Homo sapiens: one gene and its partner. The protein of the gene in region 1 interacts with the protein of each later gene in a pairwise test. Each region holds a gene or a part of one and is shown in the gene's direction. Other genes may lie near its edges.

Region 1 (3,652 bases):
GCTCTCCACTGCCCTTCCAGCCTACACCTAGGGGACAGAATCTCAGAGAATTGTTTCCAACGTATTATTCATGTCTTGCATTTGCTCAGCCAGATGTTGCCTTTCTAGGGCAGTGATTTTGGGACTCCATTTTCTTATTCAAAAGAGGATTTTCCTTTTAAGCTTCATTCTACTTCCACAGAGCTATTTTTAGAAGAAGATAAACTAAGCAATCTTTTCTGTGTTTGCTCTTTTTTAGTCGAGCAAAAGATGTGATAATACCAGCAAAGCCACCTGTCAGCTTTTTCTCCTTGAGGTCTCCAGTCCTTGACCTCTTCCAGGGGCAGCTGGATTATGCAGAGTACGTTCGACGGGATTCAGAGGTGGTACTGCTCTTCTTCTATGCCCCTTGGTGTGGACAGTCCATCGCTGCCAGGGCAGAAATTGAGCAAGCAGCAAGTCGGCTTTCAGATCAGGTAATGCTCACATTCAGCTTAAGAATCAAATGACTGTCAGTCCTATATGTAGGGCAGGATGTCCCCACAGAGACACCTTGCCCAACGGGCAGACTTTGCCAAGGTGAACTCCAGGAGTCGTTTCTAAGTTACAGAGCTTTCTATAAAGCAACAGAAAGGATTTCCAATTGTGGCGATTGTACTCCAAGGCAAGTGTGGGAGCAGATTCTGAATCTCATAACACAAGCCAATGCTTATCCTGGGGTGCCATACTGTTTGGTTTCAGCATTGAAAAAGGTAGAGGGACTGAAAATCCTAGTTCTTGCATATCCATTTGATACTTGCTAGTTAGGTATTTTAGGTAAGAAAATGTATGTATGATATGACTGCATTGTAACAAGGCCGACCTTTTTAATATATGGACCAGAACTATATTCAGCAGATAAGGAATGCCACCTTTGGGCTAGGTAAGAAAGATATATAGGCAAATAAGTCACCTGTTATGGCAGTGGTTTTCAGCCCAGTGGACCCCAGTTGTGCTTTAGAAAATAAGTATTTTATGATGTCCCTTTTTCTTCCTAAAAAGGAATTCATAGATGATAAAGTTTTCCTATACATGTAATTTCAAAATAATCTAATGCACGGATTGTAACATAGAGGTGAGGGGGGAAGAAAGTAATTTGTAACTAAATGATATATATTTTAGTATGTAAGTGCACAGTCAGAACAGGTCCATATACCTTTATGTAGAATCACTGAATGGGATAGTTACAAACGTAGACTGATAAAGGTGATATGTTGGTGACTTACCTGCCACATGGACATTGCTCTTAGTAATTGATTATCCTAAATGGTGAACAGTCTTGGTAAAATCCTGAACTATGCAAAGCCCTTTCTGCTCTCAGTTTACATAGAAGTTGCATTCCTGAAAAATTCAGTGAACACAAAAAGCATGCTTTAGATTCACATGTAAAATGGAGCTAGGTACTGGGCTTTGATAATAACAGGTTTTCCCCAACATCAGTGTTTGGCAGGCGTTTTGAACTCCTCTGGAATGCTATGGACGACTCTTCCGTGTGCAAAGCAGGTTTGAGTGTAGCAGGACATCTACCAACACCCCTGCCCTACGTATGCACTGTAGCTTCCCCCAGTCATTGTAGCAAGCCAAAAGCATCCCACAGATTTCTAAGACTCTCCTGCTCAGAACCACTGATGTGAAGTAACGTGTGTAGGCAGCTGAGTTCCAGAAGTTCATTTGGAACTGTCATTTGGTTTTTCTTAGAAACTGTGGAGCCTTCCAAATTTAGAGAACAAAGTTCACGTTGCCCATGTTGGGCACAAGAGGGATATCTATTGTGTTTTATTAATAAGTGTGAATTAGCTACCTTACTGTCAGCCTAAGCAGTATGTCCTTCTGAGTGATGGCATTAGTATAATAATAATGATATTCTGGTGTGCCAGGCCCCATGCCAATTCTCAACCACTTTGCAAGGCGATGCTGTCAGCCCTGTTTTTCTGAAGCAGGACTGCAGGCATAAGGGGTGAAGCAGTTTGTTTACCATCACGTAGTGGTGGGGGTTGTAGTGCAATCCAGGGACTGCTGCTTTTTTTAAAAAAAAAATTTCAGCTCCTTCCAAATTGAGAGCTTACTATTCCATGTACTCAGTAGGGAAAAAAGTGGGTTTATTTTTGGAAACACACAGAAATCTTTTGAACTGTATTGCATGGTAAGATTGGTAAACACGGTCCAAGTCCTGCCTGGACATCATAGATAAGAGTATGTCTTTCTTTTTTGTTTTAGTGATAAATTATGACCTTTGAAAACTCAAAACAGTTTTTTTCATAGTTTCTGTTTCAGTGAGAGAGGAATCATTCTATTTTTAAATTTCATCTTTTAAATCTTGGTAACTTTTCAGTTGTTATTCATAGTCATTTGAAAACCTTTTTTGGCTCTGCAGGTGTTGTTTGTGGCAATTAACTGTTGGTGGAACCAGGGGAAATGCAGAAAACAGAAACACTTCTTTTATTTTCCTGTAATATATCTGTATCATCGGAGGTAAGAACTTTTTAAATAGCGTCTCTCATTCCAGTTTAGTTTGCCAGTTTATAAATGAATTTTGCATTTTTTCTATATTAAAGTATTAGATATTCACTATAGAAAATTCAGATAATACAGATAAGCAAAAATTAAAAAAGAAAGATCTGGATAATCCACCCCCCTTTTTAAAGCTAAACATGGGATCAGGCAGTAATACTATTTCCTAAACTGCTTTTCTCACTTTTTTGAGCATCTTTTCATGTCATTACACATTTTACAGCATTGTTTTTAAAAGTACGAATTACTCCAATGCATTTCAGATATCGTAAGAGTGTTTTGTAAAAATACACAAAATTTCTTATCGTTTCATCTGGAGGCATAGCAGAGTCCAGAGTGTATCTTACCATCTATTCTATTGGGAAGAAAATTACTACAAGTACACAGTCCCATGTCCACAATTCTTTTTTTTTTTTGAGACGGAGTCTCACTCTGTTGCCCAGGCTGGAGTGCAGTGGCGCGATCTCCGCTCACTGCAAGCTCGGCCTCCCGGATTCACGCCATTCTCCTGCCTCAGCCTCCCAAGTAGTTGGGACTACAGGCACCCACCTCCCTGCCCAGCTAATTTTTTTTGTATTTTTAGTAGAGACAGGGTTTTACCGCCCATGTCCACAATTCTAAAGTCACAAAGAGGGCTGAAAAACGGAAAGAGTTTTATTTTATCTTATTTTATTTTATTTTATTTTGAGACAGAGTTTAGCTTTTGTTGCCCAGGCTGGAGTGCAGTGGTGCAATCTCGGCTCACTGCAGCCTCCGCCTCAGGGTTCAAGCCGTTCTCCTGCCTCAGCCTCCCGAGTAGCTGGGATTACAGGTGCCTGCCACCACGCCCGGCTAATTTTTGTATTCTTAGTAGAGACGGGGTTTTACCATGTTGCCAGGCTGGTCTCGACCTAGGCTGTACTAGAGTACAGCCCAGACCCTGCTGTGAATGATAAGTAATGTCTAAAAATCTGACTCAAAGAGTTTTGGAGATAGGAGATAGGACTTTGGACTTTGTTCAGGGTGATTGGCTTGAAGTTTGTTGAAAGTAAAATGGGTAAAGGAGATTTGATCAGTAGAGAGCTTTCCTTTTTCCTTCTAAAGTTCTTGGGCCATAATCAATGGGGATTTATAGCAAACATGC
Region 2 (3,652 bases), on another chromosome or scaffold:
TTCCTCATCTTAAAATGAAGAAAACAAAACCTATTTTATGGGATTACTGTGAGAATTACATATGTAAATATGTCTAAAGGGCTTAGAAAATTTTTTGGCACATACTAAGTGCTCAATAAATGTTAGTTGATTATGGCTGGGCACAGTGGCTCACGCCTGTAATCCCAGCACTTAGGGAGACTGACGCAGGCAGATCACCTGAGGTCGGGAGTTCGAGACCAGCCTGACCAACATGGAGAAACCCCGTCTCTACTAACAATATAAAAATTAGCCGGGCGTGGTGGCGCATGCCTGTAATCCCAGCTACTTGGGAGGCTGAGGCAGGAGAATCGCTTGAACCCGGGAGGTGGAGGTTGCAGTGAGCCAACCTCTACCACGCCATTGCACTCCAGCCTGGGCAACAAGAGCGAAACTCTGTCTCAAAAAAAGACAAAAAAAGGCCAGGCCCAGTGGCTCACGCCTGTAATCCCAGCACTTTGGGAGGTCGAGGTGGGTGAATCACAAGGTCAGGAGTTCGAGACCAGCCTGGCCAACATGGTGAAACCCTGTCTCTACTAAAAATACGAAAAATTAGCTGGGCGTAGTGGTGGGCACCTGTAATCCCAGTTACTCGGGAGGCTGAGACAGGAGAATCGCTTGAACCTGGGAGGCAGAGGTTGCAGTGAGCTGAAATCACACCACTGCACTCCAGCCCAGGCGAGAGAGTGAGATTCGGTCTCAAAAAAAAAAAAAAAAAAAAGTTAGTTGATTATGATGATAATTTTCTAATTCATATCACTCTGTTCCTTCTGCCCTGTTTTATCCCAGGTTATTAAACCTGAATCCTGTGTTCCATGTGGAAAGCGGATAAAATTTGGCAAATTATCTCTGAAGTGTCGAGACTGTCGTGTGGTCTCTCATCCAGAATGTCGGGACCGCTGTCCCCTTCCCTGCATTCCTACCCTGATAGGAACACCTGTCAAGATTGGAGAGGTATGACTTATGCAAGCCGTCATTGTTTTATGGCCTCTTTATTCGCCTTTCAAAGGCTTAGTGTCAGTTTTTGTTCTAAAATTAATCATCTCAAATATATTTCTTTCCACAAATAATGACTAGAATTGTAAGATACTTACTTGTAGAAGAGTCCTGTTTGGGTTTGTCTGTCTAATACCTTTCTAAACCAAACTTCTTTCCCCGCCCCTTTTTCCTTCTTGCTCTTCCCTGCTTCTCCTTGCCTCTTCTTCCTTCCTTCCTCCCCTTCATCCCATTTTGGAAAATTTCAGACATATATAAAACTAGAGAAATTAGTATAACTAACCCCTGGTTCTTATCACTTAACTTCCATGATTACTAACTTGTGTCCATTTTTTTTTTTTTTTTTTTTTTTTTTTTTTTTTTTTTTTTAGCTCTATTGCCTAGGCTGGAGTGCACTGGCAGGATGTCAGCTCACTGCAACCTCCGCCCCCCTGGGCTCAAGCGATTTTCTTGCCTCAGCCTCCCAAGTACCTGGAATTACAGGCATGTACCACCACCATGCCCGGCTAATTTTTTTTGGTTGTATTTTTTAGTAGAGATGGGGTTTCATCATGTTGGCCAGGGTGGTCTCAAGCTCCTGACCTCAAGTGATCCGCCCACCTCAGCCTCTCAAAGTGCTGAGACTACAGGCGTGAGCCACCGCGCCTGGTCATGTCCATTCTTTTTTTAATGTCTCTCTTTTTTTTGAGACAGAGTTTCCCTGTTGTCCAGGCTGGATTGCAGTGTTGCAACTTTGGCTCACTGCAGCCTCTGTCTCCTGGGCTCAAGTGATTCTCATGCCTCAGCCTCCCAAGTTGCTGGGACTACAGCCATGTGCCACCATGCTCAACTAATTTTTTTGTATTTTTAGTAGAGACGGGGTTTTGCCATGTTGGCCAGGCTGGTCTTGAACTCCTGACCTCAAGTGATCCGCCTGCCTCGGCCTCCTAAAGTGTTGGGATTCTAGGTGTGAGCCATGGCACCCAGCCTTTATGTCTGTTCTTGATTTATCAATACTGTCGTTGCCTCCTCCTGACTCTGTCCAATGAATTACTTGGAAGCAAATCTCAGCTATCATATAATTTTATCTGTGATAAAATTATCTTTTATTCTTGCTCTTATGTTAGACATACTTCATAATAGGTTATCAAAATGAAGTTGCTTATTTCCAAATATTTAACCAGTTTAATCCAAACTGATTAAATCCATTAAGAAATTATTTATTGCTGAGTGTGGTAGCTCATGCCTGTAATCCCAGCACTTTGGGAGGCTGAGGCAGGAAAATCACTTGAGCCCAAGAGTTTGAGACCAGCCTGGACAACAAAGCAAGACTCCATCTCTACAAAGAATAAATAAATAAGTTAGCCAGGTTAGTGGTGTGCGCCTGTGTTTGTAGCTCCTCAGGAGGCTAGGTTGGACTATTGCTTGAGGTGGGGAGGTTGAAACTGCAGTGAGCTGTGATCACACCACTGCACTCCAGCCTGGGGAATAGAGCAAGACCCTATCTCAAAAAAAAAAAAAATTATTATGTAAGTAACATTAGCAAGAATCAAAATGACTATCTTCCTACCTACTCTTCAGCAAATCAAATATTATTTTCCCCTGATCTTACAAGTTCTTATCCATGCCTGTACATTTTGTTTTGTTTTGTTTTGTTTTGTTTTGTTTTTGAGAGGGAGTTTTGTTCTTGTTGCCCAGGCTGGAGTGCAATGGCGCAATCTCGACTCACCACAACCTCCACCTCCTGGGTTCAAGCGATTCTCCTGCCTCAGCCTCCCTCATAGCTGGGATTACAGGCATGCGCCACCATGCCTGGCTAATTTTGTATTTTTAGTAGAGACAGGGTTTCTCCATGTTAGTCAGGCAGGTCTCGAACTCCTGACCTCAGGTGATCCGCCCACCTCGGCCTCCTACAGTGCTGGGATTACAGGCGTGAGCTACCGCACCTGGCCGCCTGTACATTTTTTTTACACATGTTCTGTACTCTAATATAGAACCATGGAGTTCTCCCCTACAGGTAGGTTTGTGTCATAATCAACTGATAAGATATGTTAAATAATTTTTTTTACTGAGAATAATGAAAGTATACACAATTTTTTTCTCTTGTTCCAGCTTTCTTCTGTTAGAAAAAAAAATCTGTTTAGAGTAATAAATTATTTTATATTAAAGGCTATACCTGTAACCTCATTATTGCTTGTTTTCTGCTGTCCTTGAGTGGATGAGAAGGAGGTAATTATAGCTGGTGGTCTTATTCCTTGTTCACATAACAGTGTGGTGTATATATGAAAAAGAAAAAGTGTGGTATATATGATAATAAATCAGTCCTGGTGTGGAGGTAGGAAAAATAATTGAGAGTCTCTGTTTTAATATATGCTTTGGGAATAGGAATGTAAAAGTAGACATGATGTCCCAGTTTGAGAATAAGATTGGAGGTGGTTCTTCGCATGTGGTCTTCATCTGTTGGTCTACATGGCGTAAATAATAATTTAAAGCTCTTTTTTTTTTCCAGGGAATGCTGGCAGACTTTGTGTCCCAGACTTCTCCAATGATCCCCTCCATTGTTGTGCATTGTGTAAATGAGATTGAGCAAAGAGGTCTGACTGAGGTAAGAGTCAACTGTAGGAGATGGTGAATTTGTTATTTGTGTTAATTCGGAGGT

The links. Proteins that work in one complex are often made in the same cells at the same time.
Region 2: the proteins of TXNDC11 (region 1) and RACGAP1 interact in a two-hybrid assay, tested with the Homo sapiens proteins (one large-scale study listed by BioGRID and IntAct).

The regions. Positions count from the first base shown.
Region 1 is NC_000016.10:11,732,820-11,736,471, reverse strand, and holds part of TXNDC11 (thioredoxin domain-containing protein 11), read left to right. Parts: intron 1-238; coding exon 239-455; intron 456-2,392; coding exon 2,393-2,490; intron 2,491-3,652. UniProt on the Homo sapiens protein: May act as a redox regulator involved in DUOX proteins folding. The interaction with DUOX1 and DUOX2 suggest that it belongs to a multiprotein complex constituting the thyroid H(2)O(2) generating system.
Region 2 is NC_000012.12:49,994,360-49,998,011, reverse strand, and holds part of RACGAP1 (rac GTPase-activating protein 1), read left to right. Parts: intron 1-807; coding exon 808-972; intron 973-3,502; coding exon 3,503-3,598; intron 3,599-3,652.